Regions from separate parts of the Homo sapiens genome. Here region 1 is linked to region 2. Evidence: fine-mapped expression QTL. A gene starts in region 2. The other region holds a variant in brackets. All regions are shown on one strand. Distances are between the middles of the regions. Region 1 holds the start of SYPL2 (synaptophysin like 2). Region 2 holds the start of CYB561D1 (cytochrome b561 family member D1).

Region 1 (10,062 bases), 23 kb before region 2:
ATCCACTGGAGAAGTTTCCTTCAAGTCCATGTGGCCTGATCCAGCCCGAGCTGCCTTCCTCACGTCTCTCTCTAAATCCCAAGGCTCTGGGAAGGCACTTACTCAATAGGGAAGCGACTTGTATAGATAATAGCCAAATGTTTGTTCAAAAGGCATTCATTCTGATGTGCTGGGGGGAGCGGTTGGGGGGGCGGACCTGCAGGAATGACTTGGATGAGACGGATACATATTTACAAGCCAGTGCACAGGAATTTGTCCTTGGACAAATCACTTAACCTTTTACTACTTATATTTATGCTCTCGTAAACCAAGTGTGGAATATTCTCAACTGCTCACCCCTGCCAAATGCTTTTCAAAAGTTAGAGACCAAGTTACAGTTAAAAAAATGCAACGACTTCAACCCAACCAGTCCCTTCCCTTCCCTTCTTCCCTTCCCTTCCCGTTCTTTTTCTTTCTTTTTTTTTCCTCTCTCTCTCTCCCCACTTCTGTCTGCCTTTTTTCTTTTTCTTTTTTTCTTTTTTTTGACACAGTCTTGCTCTGTTGTCCAGGCTGGAGTGCAGTGGTGCAATCTCGGCTCACTGCAACCTCCGCCTCCCGGGTTCAAGTAATTCTCGTGCCTTACCCTTCGGAGTAGCTAGGAGTACAGGCACGTGCCACCACGCCCTGCTAATTTTTGTATTTTTAATAGAGACAGGGTTTCACCATGTTGGCCAGGCTGGTCTCGAACTCCTGGCTTCAAGTGATACACCCGCCTCCGCCTCCCAAAGTGCTGGGATTACAGGCTTGAGCCACCGCGCCTAGCCAGACGTCAACTTTTCAGTACGTTTCAATATATTCTTTGCGCCTCATTCCTCAAAGACCTTTTTTCACTCTCATTTAAATGGTAATGACCATTTTAAAGGAGATTAAGTTTCTACTTGTTAAAGATTAATAACTTTTTTTTTGGAGACAGAGTCTTGGACTGTCGCCAGGGCTGGAGTGCAATGGCGCGATCTCGGCTCACTGCAACTTCCACCTCCCGGGTTCAAGCAATTCTCCTGCCTCAGCCTCCTGAGTAGCTGGGATTACAGGCGCACATCACCACACCCGGCTAATTTTTTGTATTTTTAGTAGAGACGGGGTTTCACTATGTTGGCCAGACTGGTCTCGAACTCCTGACCTCGTGATCTTCTGGCCTCGGCCTCCCAAAGTGCTGGGATTGCAGGCGTGAGCCACCAAGCCTGGCCAATAACTTTTAAATCACTAACATACAAATGTCTTTTGTTGTTTTAAAAAAAAATCAAAACAATACCTAGCTAGACAGGATAAAAAATCAGCAGCTTATATTCTATCGCCCTTTTGTCGGTACTGGCGGTATGTTAATCGTGAGGCTTAGAACCTTGTTTCACAGCCCTGATCGTGCCTTTTGAGAATCTTTTACGTTCTGGATATTCTGGTATGGAAGAGGAGAAAAACCGGCGCTGGGCAGTTTGCAATCCAGGAAAATAGGGAAGGATAAACCTGAAGCCTGTGCGTCCAGGTGCGCCTGGCTAGGGTTTCCGACGGCCGCGGTGTCTCGGTGGGGACCGGTCCCGGAGGCTTCGGCGAGGAGGACCCGGAGTCCCCCCCGCCCCGCGGCGGAACTAACCACGGAGGCCTCTGGTCCCTTTAAGGTGCCCGGCGAGCGGAGAAAGGGAGCAGAGGGGGCGGGAGGAGGGTTCGGGAGCGCACGCCACGTGACCCGGCGGCCAAGTTCGCTGCGAGTTTGACAGAAGTTTGAATCCGAGTCGGGGGCTTTCTGCTGCCGGCGGGGCACCGCGGCGGCCGCAGCCTCTGAGAGCACGAACAGCAGCGCCCCCGCGTCCCAGCCAGCCAGCCAGCCAGACTGGACTCCGGCCCACCGACGGCCGCTCGCGCTCCGGCCCCGCTCGCCTGCTCTGCCCCGGACCTGCAGCTCCCCGCTCCCCCGCCGTGTCCGCCGCCTCCCGGCCAGAGAGCCAAGCCACCACGCCGCGCCCAGCGCTCGCCGCGCCAGCATGTCCTCGACCGAGAGCGCCGGCCGCACGGCGGACAAGTCGCCGCGCCAGCAGGTAGTCCCTGCGCGCCCAGGACTCTCACCCGCCCCTCTCCACCTAGATGTCGGGCTGCACACTTATCCCACCCCTGGACCGCGTGTGAGTGGGGCAAGGGGACCAGCGCCTTCCCAGGGTTCCCCACCGCCCTGACCCCCCGGCCGGCTGTGTCTCCGCAGGTGGACCGCCTACTCGTGGGGCTGCGCTGGCGGCGGCTGGAGGAGCCGCTGGGCTTCATCAAAGTTCTCCAGTGGGTGAGTCGCTGCCCCGGCCCCGGGCTATTTCGGGAGCCTGGGCTGTGACGCTGACCTGAAGCAATGGAGCCAGGGTGGGGGCTGGGGAGGTGCTGCGGCCGGGCCACGGCGGAAGGGTGGGGGGCGGCGACAGGTGGGCGGGGGAGGGGCGGGCTGGGGCTGCTTCTCCGGACTTAGTGGCAGGAGGGTGAAGAGCGAGGCATGCGGAGTCCCGGATTCGGTCCTTCTATGTGCAAGGAGCCTTTGCCCAGGGCGCTCACATTTCACCCGGGCGAGAGGACCCGGGTGTAACCTTTCCAGAACTCTGATCCTGCACATACCACTCCTTGGTGACGGGAGGGGGGAGAAGGACGACGGGGACGAGGTCCGCTCTTCACCAAGAGGGAAGCCGCAGAGGGCAAAGGAGGGAAGGAAGCAGGCGATGGAAACCGTCCTGCCCCCAAACCCACCAGGGCCTGGATGATCCTGCAAGTACTGGGCTCAGGGGACAGGCTCTCGGCTCGCCGTTCCCTTTTGAGGTCACTGGAGTAATCCGAGTTCCTGTAAATGAGTGAGGGAGTGGATGAATGAATGAACGGAGCTTGTGGTTCTATGATTAAATAAAAGAAAAAAATAAGAATAAAAATCACGGCATGGCTAAAATGTGGCATGTAGAATAAAATGGAACACTGATCTGAGAAGCTGGGGCCCTGGGATCCAGACCTAGACTGGCCTTTTCCAGCTATGTCACCTTGGGCAATTCATTTCTCTGGACTTCAATTTCCAACACTAGTTAGATGTTGATCAGAACCTTCCTAGGGTCTCCTTATGCTCTAAATAGTTTGGTGTGCCAGAATATGGCCCTAGGTTAGACTTACTTTGTGACCTTGAAAAAGTCACTTGCTCAGGTCCTCAGTTTCCCCTGTTACAGTCTAGTGGAAATACTATCTTGCTTCACTAGGCCAGTGCCTAAGGCCTCCTGGGTATAAATTAGGAATGTGGACAGGTGCAGTCAATTTCTCAAATCATAAAGACTTGTAGGGGGCATTTAGTGCACTATTGCAGAAGAGATTTTAAATTAGACAATCCACATACCAAATGGTGTGTGAATAACTTAATTAATGTGCTCTCAGTACAGAATTCAGCTAGGGAATAAGTTACCATTAATACTGAGGAGGATTGAGTTCTACAGGGCTTTGGAGACAAGAATTAGC[A/G]CTGTGACACCAGTTCTTAAATCATGGTTTGGATGAGAATAATCAAATCTGGAACCCAGGGGCAAAAGTGCATTTGGGATTATCGGGCCAGCCTGGGAGCTCCCAAGTGCAAACTCTGGGACCTGGTGGGGACTCTCCACCTTTCTTACTGCCTCAAGAGTGGTTAGACCAATTGCTGATTGAGCTCTTTTGCCTTTGGCCCCTTCCCTGTTCTGATCCACCACTCAAGTGCCAGAGGGAGCCATATAAAAATGATATTAAGGCTCTGAGTGACTGGCATCCAGAACTGGAAGAGCCATTATAAGCAATTTTACCATTAAATTAGACAAATGGATCCAACAGAATTTGAGACAGACTGTCAAAGGATAAGGGAAACAATGAGGTTATTAGACCATGGACTCCTCTCCCTTGGAGGGATTCTGAAAAGCTTCCTTCTTCAATCCTGCCATCCTTCCCTCCACGCAGCACTCCAAATACCCACAACATTTCTGTAAAGGCTGTACAAAGCAATGCCCAGGGAAATGATGCAGTCTTGGGGTCAGCACTAATGACCTAGGAATTAAGATCTGATAGACTTTTATGATCTTCAAGTACTTAGAAAGGGGGTTGTGCAAAACAGAGACCCTTTTCTCTCAGAATGCTAAAACCTGGGCCCTGGGCTAGACTCTGAATTCAGATTTCATTCACAGGGTAGCATCACAAAGAAACGTGCTTTGCTTTTATTGCCATCCCAGGTAGCCTGAATTCAGGGCGCCAGTTTCACTTGCTTTGAAGCTCTGCAGATGAGGTAACATAAAAAGTAAACAGGCATTAGCACCAGAAATGACAGTGGAAATGTCATTTGAGTTTTTCACTCATTTCCTGTTTGGAGGGATCAAATGCTCCTGATTGGAGAAGGAAAAAAGAAAACACAAAGCTTGCAGTTATTGTAATGGTAATTGAGAACTTTTGTTGTCATTATTACCAAAAAGCAAAGATTTTACTGGAATCTTTGTGAAAAGAAAGTAATGTTATTCTTTTATTTGTCAGGAGCTTATCTTAGAGTTTTTTTTTTTTTAATTGAGAAATCAACTAATCTCACCTCAATTCCAATTCTGGAGTCTCACTAAGTCTATACTAAGCTAGCAAAAATAACCTGGACATAGACCAATTATTGGAGAACTAGTTTTTTTTTAAAAAAGAAAAGGACATCAAATCATAGGAGTTCAAGATAAAAAAGAAAAGAAAAGAAGTATCTTAAAAAAAATTTTCTTTTTAAGAAAAAGACACACTTTGGGAGGCTGAGGTGGGAGGATTGCTTGAGCCCAGGAGTTTGACACAAGCCTGGGCAATAAGGGGAGGTCGCGTCTCTATTAAAAAATAAAATTAGTTGGGTGTGATGACACATGCTTGTGGTCCCAGCTCCTTGGGAGGCTGAGGCTGGAGGATCATTGAGCCCAGGAGGTCGAGGCTGCAATGAGCTGCGCACTCCAGCCTGAGTGACAGAACTAGACCTTGTCTCAAAAAAAAAAAAAAAAAAAAAAAAAGGAAAATAAAACAAAAGAAAAAGGAAGATAGAGACAGATTTTTGAGGTCAGATAGGCTTCGGTTTAAATTGAGTCCCCTCTGCTTTCTTGCTTTCTAGCTCTGGAACCTTGAGTGAGTAAATATCAAATCTTTTTTTTTTTTCAGACAGGCTCTAAGATAGAGACTGGCTCTATCGCTGAGGCTGGAGTGCAGTGGTACGAACACATCTCACTGCAGCCTAAATTTCCAAGCTCAGGCAATCCTCCCACCTCAGCCTTTCAAGTATCTGGGACCAAAGGCACATGCCACCATGCCTAGCTAAGTTGTAAAAAATTTTTGTAAAAATCGGGTCTTGCTATGCTGCCCCAGCTGGCTTTGAGTTCCTGGGCTCAGGTGATATTCCCACCTCAGCCTCCAAAAGTGCTGAGATTACAGGCATGAGCCTGTTACCTCGCCTAAACAAAACAAAAAACAATGAGATAAGCGTGGGAGTAGGACCTGGGGAGAGAATTTGTCTTCCTTGTGCTCTGAGCTAACTGGTGATGTTAGTGTCCTCAGGACTGTCACAGGATTATCACCAGCGAGCATGTCAGTGCCAAAGGGGAGCCTCATCCTTAAACTGGAAAGGTTTAAGGTTGCAAAAGAGATGCAGAAGCAAGAGGAGGCGGAGGGCAGAAAATGACCGTCGCTGTCCCAGCAATGGAGGTCCAAGAGGAGAAAGGCTGGTTGGCACCAGAATGCTAGAACTCCCCCTTGTCTCAGGTCCTCTACCTCTCCTTGGCTGCTCTTTATAACCAGTTTGCTCATCTCAGAGCCTTGTGCTTGGTGACAGGGGTGATTTTAGTTCTTTCCTTCTCTTCTCTGTGTCTCAGTCACTTGGCAAAGTTAGGGAAGAAAGCAAATCTGGAGTGGAAAGATGGAGGGTTAGGAGACATGGAGGGGGTTGGGAGAAAGTGTCTTTCTGAGCTTCTGCACCCCAAGGCACAGAGCTACTCCTTCCCTCCTTGTAATCCTCAATGCACATGGTAGAGATCTCTTCTTTAGCCTCAATAACTCTGGGATGCAGTGTTTGTTTTTATTATTTTTTGTTTGTTTGTTTTGCTATGACGCTCCTTTCTTGATGTGAATTCTCAAGAGCAGGAGATAGGTGTTATTCGTCTTCATATCTCCAGCACCTGGCACAAGGTAGATGCTCAATCAGTGTTGAGTTAATGAGCAAATGAAATGGAAAGAGCACTGGACAGGGAATCAGGAGATGTGAATTCTAAGCCTGGCTCTCACATTAACTAAATGTGACTTTGGGAAAGTGACTTAATCTTTTGGGGCTTCACAGTCCCCCTCTGTGACATGAGATGATTGGGTGTGAGAATCTTTGAGGTCCCTTTTGTTCTGCTGTTCTGTGAACCTGTGATTCCCCTCAGATGTTCTCATTTTGCTCTGGTACCATCCGACTGTATAGTGTTCAGATTTAAACATATATTTTGGTAAATAAAAAATCATCGTGTAAGATCCCTGACTTGAAAAGAATCAGAATACAATAAATACTAAAGTTATTGTGGGTGTATTTTGCCCTCTGAGGAATCCGAAAGCATGATTCAGGATTGTCAGAACCTCAGGACCGTCGTTTAGACACAGCAGAACTTTTGGTAATAATGGAAAAGTTTTAGAATCGGTGCTCTCTAAGATAGTACCTGCTAGTCACATGAGGCTATTGGGCACTTGAAATGTGCCTAGCGTGACTGAACTGAATTTTTTTTTTTTTAGTAGAGACGGCATTTTGCCATGTTGGCCAGGCTGGTCTCGAACCCCTGACCTCAAGTGATTTGCCCGCCTTGGCCTCCTAAAGTGCTGGGATTACAGGCATGAGCCACCACACCCGGCCTGAACTTTTTTGTTGTTGTTTGATCCAGTCTCACTCTGTCATCCAGGCTGGAGTGCAGTGGCGTGATCATAGCTCATTGCAGCCTTGAACCCCTGGGCTCAAGTGATCCACACACTTCAGCAGCTGGGACTACAGGCATGTACCACCATGCCCGACTACTTTTTTTTTTTGGTAGAGATGGAGTCTTGCTATGATACCCAGGCTGGTCTTGAACTCCTGGCCTCAAGTGATCCTCCCACCTTGCTTCCCAAAGTGTTGGGATTACAGGTCTGAGACACTGCACCCGGCTTGAATTTTTTATTTAATTTAATTCTGATTAACTTAAACTTAAATAATCAAGCTTGGCTAGGGGCTACTGTTTTGGATAGTGCAGCTCTAGAGTATGAGCCCCATGAGGACAGAGATTTTGTTATTCTTTTTCTTTTTTTGAGATAGGGTCTCGCTCTGTCACCCAGGCTGGTGTCCAGTGGTGTGATCATGTAGCTTTGACCTCCTGGGCTCAAGAGATCTTCCCACATCAGCCCCCAGAGTAGCTGGGACCACAGATGTGCATCACCACACCTGGCTAATTTTTCTTGGCTAAATAAAAAGTTGGCTAGTCTCAAACTCCTGGGCTCAAGTGATCCTCCCACCTCAGCCTCCCAGAGTGCTGGGATTACAGGCATGAACCACCATGCTTGGCCTTTTTTCTCTTTTGTTCACTACTAGATAATAGTGCCTGGAACCATGCATAGTAGGCACTGTACATGCTAGGCATAGTACATGCTCTTAAATTTTATCTTTCTGTAGATGCTCAGGAGTGCCTTTCAGGAGAGTGCTGGTGAAGAGAAGGCTCCATAACTGACCGTTCACTGCCCCCAAGTTTTGAGTACCTACTTTCTTTTTCTTTACTTTTTTTTTTTTTTTTTTTTTTTGAGATGGGGGTCTTGTTCTGTTGCCCAGCCTGGAGTGCAGTGGCATGATCATAGCTCACTGCAGCCTTGAACTCCTGGGCTCAAGTGATTCCTCCCCATCAGCCTCCTGAGTAACTGGGACTATTAGCAGGCACCACCATGCCCAGCTAATTTTTTGTTTGTAGTTTCTGTAGGGGAGGGTCTTGCTATGTTGCCTATATGTTGCTAGTCTCAAATTCCTGGGCTCAAGCCATTCTCCTGCTTGGCCTCCCAAACTGCTGGGATTACAGCTGTGAGCCACCATGCCCGGCCCCTGCTTTCTTAAGGAACCTATAAGGAGCCATTCACTGACTAACTGCCAACGGGTAAAAATATTTCCAACTGTGCTGCCCTTCCCAGAATGTGACACCCTAATCACATCCAGTTCTGGGCACCAGAAGCTAAGAGGAATAAAGAAACTTCTAAGAGGAATCAGATGGCCACAGAACTGACAAAAGATTAGCGAATTCCTATGAGGAAGAGTTAGAGAAGTTCCACTATTACAATGGTGAGGCCACTTTGAGTAAGTAAAGGGTAATGATGCAGAGGCTTCGAGTGACTCTTCTCTACCTCTGTGAAGAAGGCGGGCAGACAGGGCTCTACTGCAGTCTTCATCATTTAATTCAGGAGAGGAGGGTATTTAGGCATTGGAGGGAGGTTTTACTGTCTTCTTTCCCAGATATCTTTAAACATGGAGACAATTCTCATTTGTCTGGAATAAACCTCCTGAAAACAGAGAGGTGCCCATTATTTGGAGAGAGGCCAATGGCTCCAGCATGGAGATCTGCAAGGCCAGGCGCTGCAAGCCGGGGGCAGTGGCACTGGACACCTCGCAGGGGCAAAGCACAGCTGTTGGCAAGCCCAGTCAAGAGTACACTGACAGTGTTACTCTCAGAGAGTGAGAGAGTTCCAGGGCTGGAAAGGGCCTCTAGATTATCTACTCCAAACCCCTCCATTTAAGATGAGGAAACAGGCTGGGCTCATGCCTATAATCCCAGCACTTTGGGAGGTTGAGGCGGGCGGATCACAAGGTCAGGAGACCGAGACCATCCTGGCTAACACGGTGAAAACCCGTCTCTACTAAAAAAAATACAAAAAATTAGCTGGGCATGGTGGTGGGCGCCTATAGTCCCAGCTACTCAACAGGCTGAGGCAGGAGAATGGTGTGAACGCAGGAGGTGCAGCTTGCAGTGAGCCAAGATTGCGCCACTACACTCCAGCCTGGGCGACAGAGCAAGACTCCATCTAAAAAAAAAAAAAAAGATGAGGAAACAGACTCAGAGAGCAGAGTGACTTATCAGAGCTCACCTGGCTAATTAGTGACAGGACCAGGTCTGGAACCTAGGTTTCCATACTCCTAGTTCAGGTCTCCTTTCACTCCATAATGCTAACAAGCATTGGCAAAATAAAGTGCATATAGCTTCTATTCTAGACTCTGGATGCAGGGCTGACATACAGATCAGCTGTCTTCCAAGTGCTTAATGTCCAAGACACTGAGTCTCGAAGAAAGATACAGAGAGTGAACAATTAAGAGAATAAGCTCATTGCTTAATAAGAACATGACATTGTGTACAAGTCAAAGGTAAGTGCACAGGAAATCCAATCTGAGCAGATGATGTGGAGGATAAGACATTTCAATTTCTCACCTCCTTTTCTTTTTTCTTTTCTTTTCTTTTCTTTTTTTTTTTTTTTTTGGCGGTGGGCGGGAGAGGGACAAGGTCTCATTCTGTTGCCAGGCTGGAGTGCAGTGGCACGATCTCGGCTCACTGCAACCTCCGCCTCCCGGGTTCAAGTGATTCTCCTGCCTCAGCCTCCCAAGTAGCTGAGATTACAGGCATGCGACACTCTACCGCCAGGCTGATTTTTGTATTTTTAGTAGATATGGGGTTTCACCATGTTGGCCAGGTTGGTCTCAAACTCCTGACCTCAAATGATCCACCCGCCTCAGCCTCCCAAAGTGCTGGGATTACAGGTGTGAGCCACCGCACCTGGCCTCTCACCTCCTTTTCTAACCAAAGTGTGTTTCCCAGAAAGAAATCTGAAAATCATAGGATGAGGAAATTTTATTTCACTTGAGAGAGAAGGTGTAGTAAAATGTGAGGAAAGGTGGAGAAGAAAACAATTCGAGTGACCTGAGACACCTCTGGATCTTAACACTGAGAAATGGCAGCATCAACAGATGACAAAGGGAAATACCAGTGGGGAAACAGTGGAGACTGATAAGGCAAGTGGAGGGTACTTTTC
Region 2 (8,000 bases):
CCTGTTTCCAACCAGGCATACCACAGCACCCCAGCCTCTCGGCAGTGTGCCAGATCCAACACTCAGGATATGAACATTTTCCCAGCTGCCTCCAACAGACCGAAACTTGTCACTGGGGAGCTGAAAGGGTCACACTCCTGGGCAAGGCAGCCCTATGTGTATTCACTCACTGGCCCCTTCGCGTGCAGAGGCTATGCCGGACCCCAGGGAGAGCCTGACTTGCTGAAGGAGACACACATGCATCTCTGCCTGTCACACAAGGGGCAGACACGAAACACAGGCTCAGCTCACAGACAGGCTCACAGGAATATGTGATGCAAGAAGGGGGTTGAGCGAGTTGACTGGGCTGACCAGAGCTGGGTACAGTTTTAACTGTGAAGATTTTCTGGAGGAGGCGGATCTGCAGCAGATTATCCCCTGAGGAGGAAGGGGCTGGGAGGTGAAGGGGCTGGGGAGAGAATCCCTTGGGAGCAGTCTCTCTGTCTCTTACTCTGTGAGCTGTGTCGTTCCCTCCTGTCCTTCCCTTCCCTCTGTCCTCTTCTGATTGCCCTGCAGGGTGTCTGCCCTGGTGCCCTGCTCTTTGAGCTCGGCAGGTTCAAGGATGCCCCTACTCTGACCCCACAACAGTCACATTCCCCTGGCATCCCTTTTGGCCCTTCCAGGTCCCGGGCCTCCTCCGAGAGTGAATTGGATGATGAAGGCCCCTGTGGTGGTGATGGGGACCCAGGCCTGTTCCCCTTCCCCATGCCCCGGGGTGGGACCCAGGCCTCCAGCGAAGAGAGTGAGGAGGAGGGGACATCTGACGACCTCCACCCACCCCCTGACTGCCATTATGCAACCCGGCCCCCACGGCCACAGGCGGTAAGGACCTGGAATAGGGGCCTATGGAGGGGGTGGCCCAGCACTCCTGGCCAACAACATGGGGAGGAGGCCAGATCCTGTGTGCAGATGCTGTCTGTGCACCCCAGACCCTGCCAACCATGCACCTTCCTTCTGCCTTTAGTTCTGCACCTTTGGGAGCCGGCTGGTGAGCCCAGGATGCTATGTGTTTAGCCGCCGGCTGGACCGGTTCTGCTCAGCACTCAGCTCCATGCTGGAACGGCACCTCAGCACACACATGTGGAAGTAAGTCTCTCGGACCCAGAATGGAAGTTCTAGAATGGAAATTCCTAGGTTCCAGACATACTTGGGCTTCAGAAGCCCTGATCTTTCCTGTATACCCATAGGTGTGCCTTGGCTATTTGCCAGCAGGACCCCAGATAGGGAGTAGCATGAAAAGGAGGTGGGAAAACTTGGCAGCCTAGAGTTTGGCTAAGGCAGGGCATGGAAGGGTGGTCTGGGGGTGAATCTAGACTTTCATCCATCACTTCCAGTACCTTTTGGGTAACTAGGGATAGGGGATGCCCAAACCAAGATTTAAAATGAAGTTCCTAGTGGGCTGCCTCCTAGTTAGTAGGTACTAGCTAATTCCTCTCCACAGGCACCCCTGTGTCTTCTTCCTAACCCTCAGTTCCAGCATCTCCCAGCAGATGGCAGCAACTCTGGGGCTCTGCTGACCATTTCTAGGTGGGGCAGAGAGACTGGAGTGTGTCTTGTGTTGGGGGAAGCTGTCTTGTTTCTTGGCAGTCACAGTGGGGCTTTCTTTTTGCTGCAGGAAGATCCCACCGGCAGCTGAACCTCCAGCTCACCTTGTCAACTCCCCGTTATCTGCTCCCCTGAGCCCATCCTCTACAGGCACCTGCCCCCGCCTTCCAGGTCCAACCCTGAGACCTGCCTGCCCAGCCTCCATGCCCCCCACCAAGGACAACCTTGTCCCCAGCTACCCTGCAGGCTCCCCCAGCGTGGCGGCTGCCTGTAGCCAGGCAGAGTGCATGGGCGGGAGCCAGGCTATCACCTCACCACTGCCTGCCAACACGCCATCCCCGTCCTTCAGCAAGCTGCCGCCTTCCAAGGCCAGCAAGTCATCCAAAGGCAAGGACGGGGTGGAGGTGGAGGCCCCTTCTCGAAAGCGGAAGTTATCCCCTGGCCCTACCACTCTTAAACGGACCTGCATCCTGGAGCCCACTGGAAAAGGGAAACCCTCTGGCTGTAGGGGCCTCTCGGCCAAAACTAAAACAGCCCTGAGCATGGGGCTTAATGGGACAATGGGGCCAAGAGTGAAGCGGGCAGGGCCCCTGGACTGTCGTGGCTCCCCTCATCAGCTCCCCACACCAGTCAAGGCTTCTCAGCTGGAGAACCGGGGAGCAGCTGGACACCCAGCCAAGGCCCTGCCAACCAACTGCCTCTCTGAGGAGGAGGTGGCCAAGAAGCGGAAAAACCTGGCCACTTATTGCCGGCCAGTGAAGGCCAAGCACTGTCAGGCTGGTGCCCCTGCTGATGTGGCCTGCTCTGTGCGCCGCAAGAAGCCAGGCCCGGCCCTGGCCTTTGAGGAGAAGTGCTCTACACTGAAGGTACCAGCCAGGCTCCCTGAAGATTGATGAGGGTGGGGCACACAGGGGGTACCTGATACAGAGAAGATGCTACATTGGTGTTTGTGCAGGGAAAGGGAGGAAGGGGAAGTTGAGAGAGTTCCTGGACTGTTTTCTTTAGGAAGAGGTAGGTCAGTTCTTAGCAAAGTGACTCCAGCTTTTTGCCTGGTGAACCTTCCCCTATCCCTAACCCTTTCCCTTGGGCTGAGGAGATGCGGCACCCCTCCACCCCTGCTTTTGCTATAATCAAAGGGCTACTTCTTTCTGAATTGGCTGTGACCCTCATTCCAGGTACTGGAGCTACCTCTGTTCCCTGAAGGAAAGGGAGTTTGAGTCCCTGGGTCACAGCCTAACATGCCGAGCAGCAAGGTGGGTGGGCTGGTCTCACTGGTTTTTCCTCTGGGCATCAGGGCCTTGAAGGGCAGGCACACAACCCCATGTCCACTTATGCACATGTGCCCACCTCCAGGTGTGCAGGTGACAGGCAAGTTCTCCAGGGTTTCCAGTAAAGCCTGCAGCCAGTTTTATTTGCCTCTTCTGGTGGGAGCCCTGGTGTAGTGTGCTATGTGCTCTCCATATGATCTCTGCCAGGAGGGACTTACTGGAGGTGGGACGGGGGTGCTCTCCTGGGTTAGATGTGGGCCTAATCATAAACCCTGTGTGTTCTCCAGCTTCACTACCCAGGCTGCCCCTGGTGAGCTGGCATTCATCTTCCCCCTTGCTCAGTTTTACTCACCAGGCCAGCAGAAGGAAATCAAGCTTTAGCCTCTGTAGTGCACACAGTTCACTGGGTAGGACAGCTGGTAGGCCCCCACCCTGACCCTTTCTCTCGCCTCTTGTCTTCCTGCAGTCAAAAGCCCATTAACGAGAAAGTGCCTGCCCACTGCAACGGAGCCGCCAGCACCTCCTCCCCTCCAGATCCGGGCCCCAGGCTGCTGCCGCTTTTTATAACTTTATATTATTTTTTTTTAAGAAAAAAAGCTCTTTAAAATACCTCAAGACTGTCTCCCTGTTCTGTTGCTGCTATGAAAATATAAAAACAGAAACATAGAAAAGGAAGGAAAAAAAATAACAAAATGAGTGTCCTTACTGTCCCCAGCCCTACCCTGGGAGGCTGAGATGATAGGCAGCCAGACTCCAGCTCCCATAGCTTGCCTGCAAAAGTCTCTTATGCTCATTATTATTATTATTGTCATCTTGTCATTTTCAATAGTGTGAAAAATGTTTGTGTCACTGGGGTAGTCTTTCCAGACAGGATGATGAGGCGTGTGGCTCTGAATGAGTAAGGCTTCCTGAGTCTTGACACCAGAGACGACTATGGTCCCATTGGGAAGAGAAACTCGAGAGGGGGAGCTGCACTTCTGGCTCTTTCTAGGATCCTTGCCCCGAGGGTCTGGGAATTGGCTTGTGACCCTTTTCTGGTCCTTCAGCAACCCTAGGCATCCATCCCTCCCTGAATTATTGCCTGCTTTTCTTCAGCTGTTCCTGCAGCCTCATTTTCTCAGCCACTTAGGGAGCTTGAGCTGGGTTGGTCATTGCTGTTGGGATATTCCTGTTTTCTATTGGACAGCCTTCCTTCCCTGCCTGTGGGTTTGCCTTTAAGGAAGGGGTAGAACCTTTCCCAGGGAGGCCTCCTTGGGTTGAACCACCCCTTTTTTGGAGGCAGGAAGGGAAAAGGCATCATCACTTGCAGAACTGGTGGTGTGGGAGGCCACAGGAGTGTGGGAGGCCTTGGTCCTTCAGGATCACCTGGCTCCTCAGGGCTGAGCAGCTGCTGAGGAGGCGGCAGGGCTGGGAGTGCCCTAGTTTTTCCATTTATCTCGCTGGGGACCACTCCCGTGCAGATGCGAGAGGAGACTTGCATTTCCCTCCTTTGGTCCACCAGGTTCAAGGCACTATATTTTGGCGATGTCCTTTCCTATTCTCCTTGCTCTTAGGCATGGAGGAAGCTTGTTCCCTGAACAAGACAAAATGAGGTGACAGGAGACAGTGCACAGCCAGGGAAATCCAGTACTACTAGAAATCGGCTCCAAACACTTGTTTCACAGTCTTGGTTCAGCGTACCAAGTGTGTGATTTGGGGTTTCACTGAAATCGTTTGCCACAAAAGTAATTTCCACAGGCTGCTTGGGATTTAGGCCCTTGTAGACAGACACACAGATACAAATGAAGGTGGGCTGGGAACTGTTCGGTCCCCTTCTGCCTCCGGGCTCTCGCGGGAGCGGGCCTCTCCGGGGCACTCGCGTTTCCCCCCCAGCCCCCAGAGGGCGCTGTGGGCCACTCCGCCGCACTGCCGGCGGCGTCCCCGGGGAGGAGCCTCTCCTGCAGCCGCCACCGCCTCCGCGATCGCAAACCCGGAAGACGTGTTCGGGCAGCTGGAGTGTACGGGCCCGCGGGCCACGGCCATGCAGCCCCTGGAGGTAGGTCTGGTTCCCGCTCCAGCTGGGGAGCCGAGACTGACCCGCTGGCTGCGGAGAGGCAGTGGGATCTTGGCGCACCTGGTAGCTTTGGGCTTCACCATCTTTCTGACAGCGCTGTCCCGGCCAGGAACCAGTGAGTGTGCGGGGCGGGGTTGCGGAAGGGGGCGGAGTGGAGATGCTGGAGGGGCAGCGCTTGGGAGCCCCGGGAGACTTGGAGGAGGGACCCCAGCAGTAAAGGGGAGACAGAAACAGTGGAGGGATTTTGAGGGCCTGGTGGGGCGGGGCCCCAGGGATCCTGGAATAATGGGGTTTTGGGTGCTGTGGGGGAAGGGCAGACGATTGAACAGACCGAACTACTTCCTCAGAAACAGGTCCCCTGATGGAGGATAGAAGTGAAGGAGGCCGGGCGCGGTGGGTCATGCCTGAAATCCCAGCACTTTGGGAGGCCGACGCGGGTGGATCACTTGAGGTCAGGAGTTCGAGACCAGCCTGGCCAACATGGTGAAACCCCGTCTCTACTAAGAATACAAAAATTAGCCAGGCGTGATGGCGCGCGCCTGTAGTTCCAGCTACTTGGGAGGCTGAGGGAGGAGAATCGCTTGAACCCGGGAGGTGGAGGCTGCAGTGAGCCGAGATTGCACCACTGCACTCCACCCTGTGCGACAGAGCGAGACTCCGTATCAAAAAAAAAACAAAAAACAACAACCAAAAAAAACAAAAAACAAAAAAGGGGCAGAGGACTGGGCTGCCAGCTGAGAGGTGCTGAACGGGGAACCCGGGCCAAACTGTTGTATGTGTGTGGATAAGGAGGCCCTCTTGGTTGCTCACCCTGGGGCTCCTTGGCTGCTCCACTTTGTCCTTAGTTCCTGTGCCCGATTAGGATTGGGGATGGTACTTTTCTCCTGTGGCTAGATTCTTTGGGTTCCACCTAGCTACAGGGGCAGGAACAATGGTACCAAGCCCTCAGCCTGTTCTCTTTGATTCTTAGGTCTTTTCTCCTGGCACCCTGTATTCATGGCCTTGGCGGTGAGTTTAGGCTTCTATCTGATTTGTTTGGGTATTCCTCACCTCATTCTCCCAGGGAAGCACCCAGCTTTCAGAAAGCTCAGCCTTTCTAAGGCTAAGACAGGTGGAGGAAACATCTAGGGCTCATCTTTCCCTGCAGCCTATGGGATTGGGAAACCTGGAGGGCTGGGCCATAGGCAGTTGTCAGATGGTTGAAAAGGGCGGGAGGGCATGGAAGATAATTTCTTTCTCCATTGGGGCCGGAAAGGAGAAGGGGGGAGAGGTGTTATCCGGTCATCTCCCGACTTGTCCCCAAAGTTCAGGAAGAAGTTTAACATTTGCTACTCCACTGGTCAAGAAATGGGAGTCATTGTAGAGGTTGGGATGGGGAGATGTCAACCTGAATGAGGAGACGTGCACTCAAGTGCTGATTCCCAAATGTTCCCAGAAATGTTGAGCTGTGAGGCTGGTGGTCCTGGTTGAACTTATTTAACCCTTACCCTTTGTCCTCTTTGTTAGGATGTATGAGAGCACCTCCTTTTTCTCAGGCCTCCAAGCCAGACATGAGGCTTACTGGCTCTCTCCTATGTTCACAGTTCTGCCTCTGCATGGCTGAAGCCATCCTACTCTTCTCACCTGAACACTCCCTGTTCTTCTTCTGCTCCCGAAAAGCACGGATCCGGCTCCACTGGGCAGGGCAGACCCTAGCCATCCTCTGTGCAGCTCTGGGCCTGGGCTTCATCATCTCCAGCAGGACCCGCAGTGAGCTGCCTCATCTGGTGTCCTGGCACAGCTGGGTGGGAGCCCTGACACTGCTGGCCACTGCTGTCCAGGCACTGTGTGGGCTCTGCCTCCTTTGTCCCCGGGCAGCCAGGGTCTCAAGGGTGGCTCGCCTCAAGCTCTACCATCTGACATGTGGACTGGTGGTCTACCTGATGGCTACAGTAACGGTGCTTCTGGGCATGTACTCAGTATGGTTCCAGGCCCAGATCAAAGGTGCGGCCTGGTACCTGTGCCTGGCACTGCCCGTCTATCCAGCCCTGGTGATCATGCACCAGATTTCCAGATCCTACTTGCCGAGGAAGAAAATGGAAATGTGAGTTCCTGCGAACGCTGAATCTAGGTGGGACGCTTGCCTTGAACATCATGGTTCCTTTGGTGATCTATAAGGGATCTATTTAAGAAGTGGTCAGGTTTTCGCACTTCTTGGCTGGTCCAGGGACTGCAGAAACCAAAGCTGCTATTGTTGAGGAATAATTCAGTGGGTCAAAATGGGGAGATGTACTGGGTATGAGTGGAAGGTGATGGAGAGCCTGATCCTGAAGCCTCTACTTGATGAGAGACAGAGTTTTGGGTGGTGATAGTGATGTGCTGGTGGTCATTTCTTGCTTGTGTGCCTGATGAAAAACTGGGTTCCTGTAAGTTATGAATGGCATCCAGGGATATTTGGGTTACTTTTAAGAAAGCAGTGTGATGTAGTGGAGAGAGCCCATGGGTCTTATTTATGGGATATGGTCCTCTTAGGCTCTGTTGTACAACCTTAGGTACATTCCATATCTTAAGACCACTGTTTCTTCATCTGTGAAATGTTTCTAAACAATCTCTAAGTCCCTTCCTTCTCTAATATACAGCGTCTGTCAGGTCGATGTCTCAGAACACTCTCCCAGCTGTGGACCACGTGGACCACTTAGCAGACTCAGGGGGTAGTTCTTTACTCTCCCTTTACTACCCTGGAGGGACAGCTCTGCCCTTGAGGCCCTTCAGAAATTTGTGCTGATTTGGTCCCTGTGCCAGGGCACAGGGGGTCAGGCACTGTGGAAAGAAGGGACTCAGGTGAGGGTCTTCTGGACTCTAAGACGGTAAAGGCACTAAAGTCACTTTAAAGCTTTTGGAGAAGCAGGAGGGCATTGGCTTAACCAAGCCGAAGGCTGCTGGCTGGGCTGCCTAGCCCAGCTAAGATCTTCCTTCAGCCCACCTCAGGATCCGGGCTTGAGGGCTGCAGGGCCTGCGTGCGCTCCCTCCCCCGAAATCACTTCTCAGGGCAAAGGAGCCCCAGGCATCTCATGCTTTGCCCTTCTTAGGGCTCAGGTTCTTGCCTTAGCACATAG

The links. PIP is the estimated chance that this variant, and not a neighbour inherited with it, causes the effect.
Region 1: its variant is the best candidate, but not a certain one, in a credible set for the expression of CYB561D1 in whole blood (INTERVAL, PIP 0.57).

What each region holds. Positions count from the first base shown.
Region 1 is chr1:109,464,829-109,474,890 of GRCh38, forward strand. It overlaps SYPL2 (synaptophysin like 2), which reads left to right and starts at 1,718. Exons shown (of 6, transcript NM_001040709.2): 1 at 1,718-2,069; 2 at 2,231-2,305. The coding sequence starts at 2,016. RefSeq lists enhancers at 1,149-1,650, 1,651-2,150. The variant A/G (reference allele first, on the strand shown) is at 3,499.
Region 2 is chr1:109,489,268-109,497,267 of GRCh38, forward strand. CYB561D1 (cytochrome b561 family member D1) reads left to right here and starts at 4,827. Exons shown (of 3, transcript NM_182580.3): 1 at 4,827-5,020; 2 at 5,876-5,913; 3 at 6,489-8,000. The coding sequence starts at 4,873. The coding sequence ends at 6,992. ATXN7L2 (ataxin 7 like 2) reads left to right here. Exons shown (of 11, transcript NM_001350175.2): 8 at 663-861; 9 at 1,004-1,125; 10 at 1,655-2,450; 11 at 3,319-3,467. The coding sequence ends at 3,333. RefSeq lists silencers at 1,590-1,639, 4,598-4,827 and enhancers at 4,898-4,977, 4,967-5,467.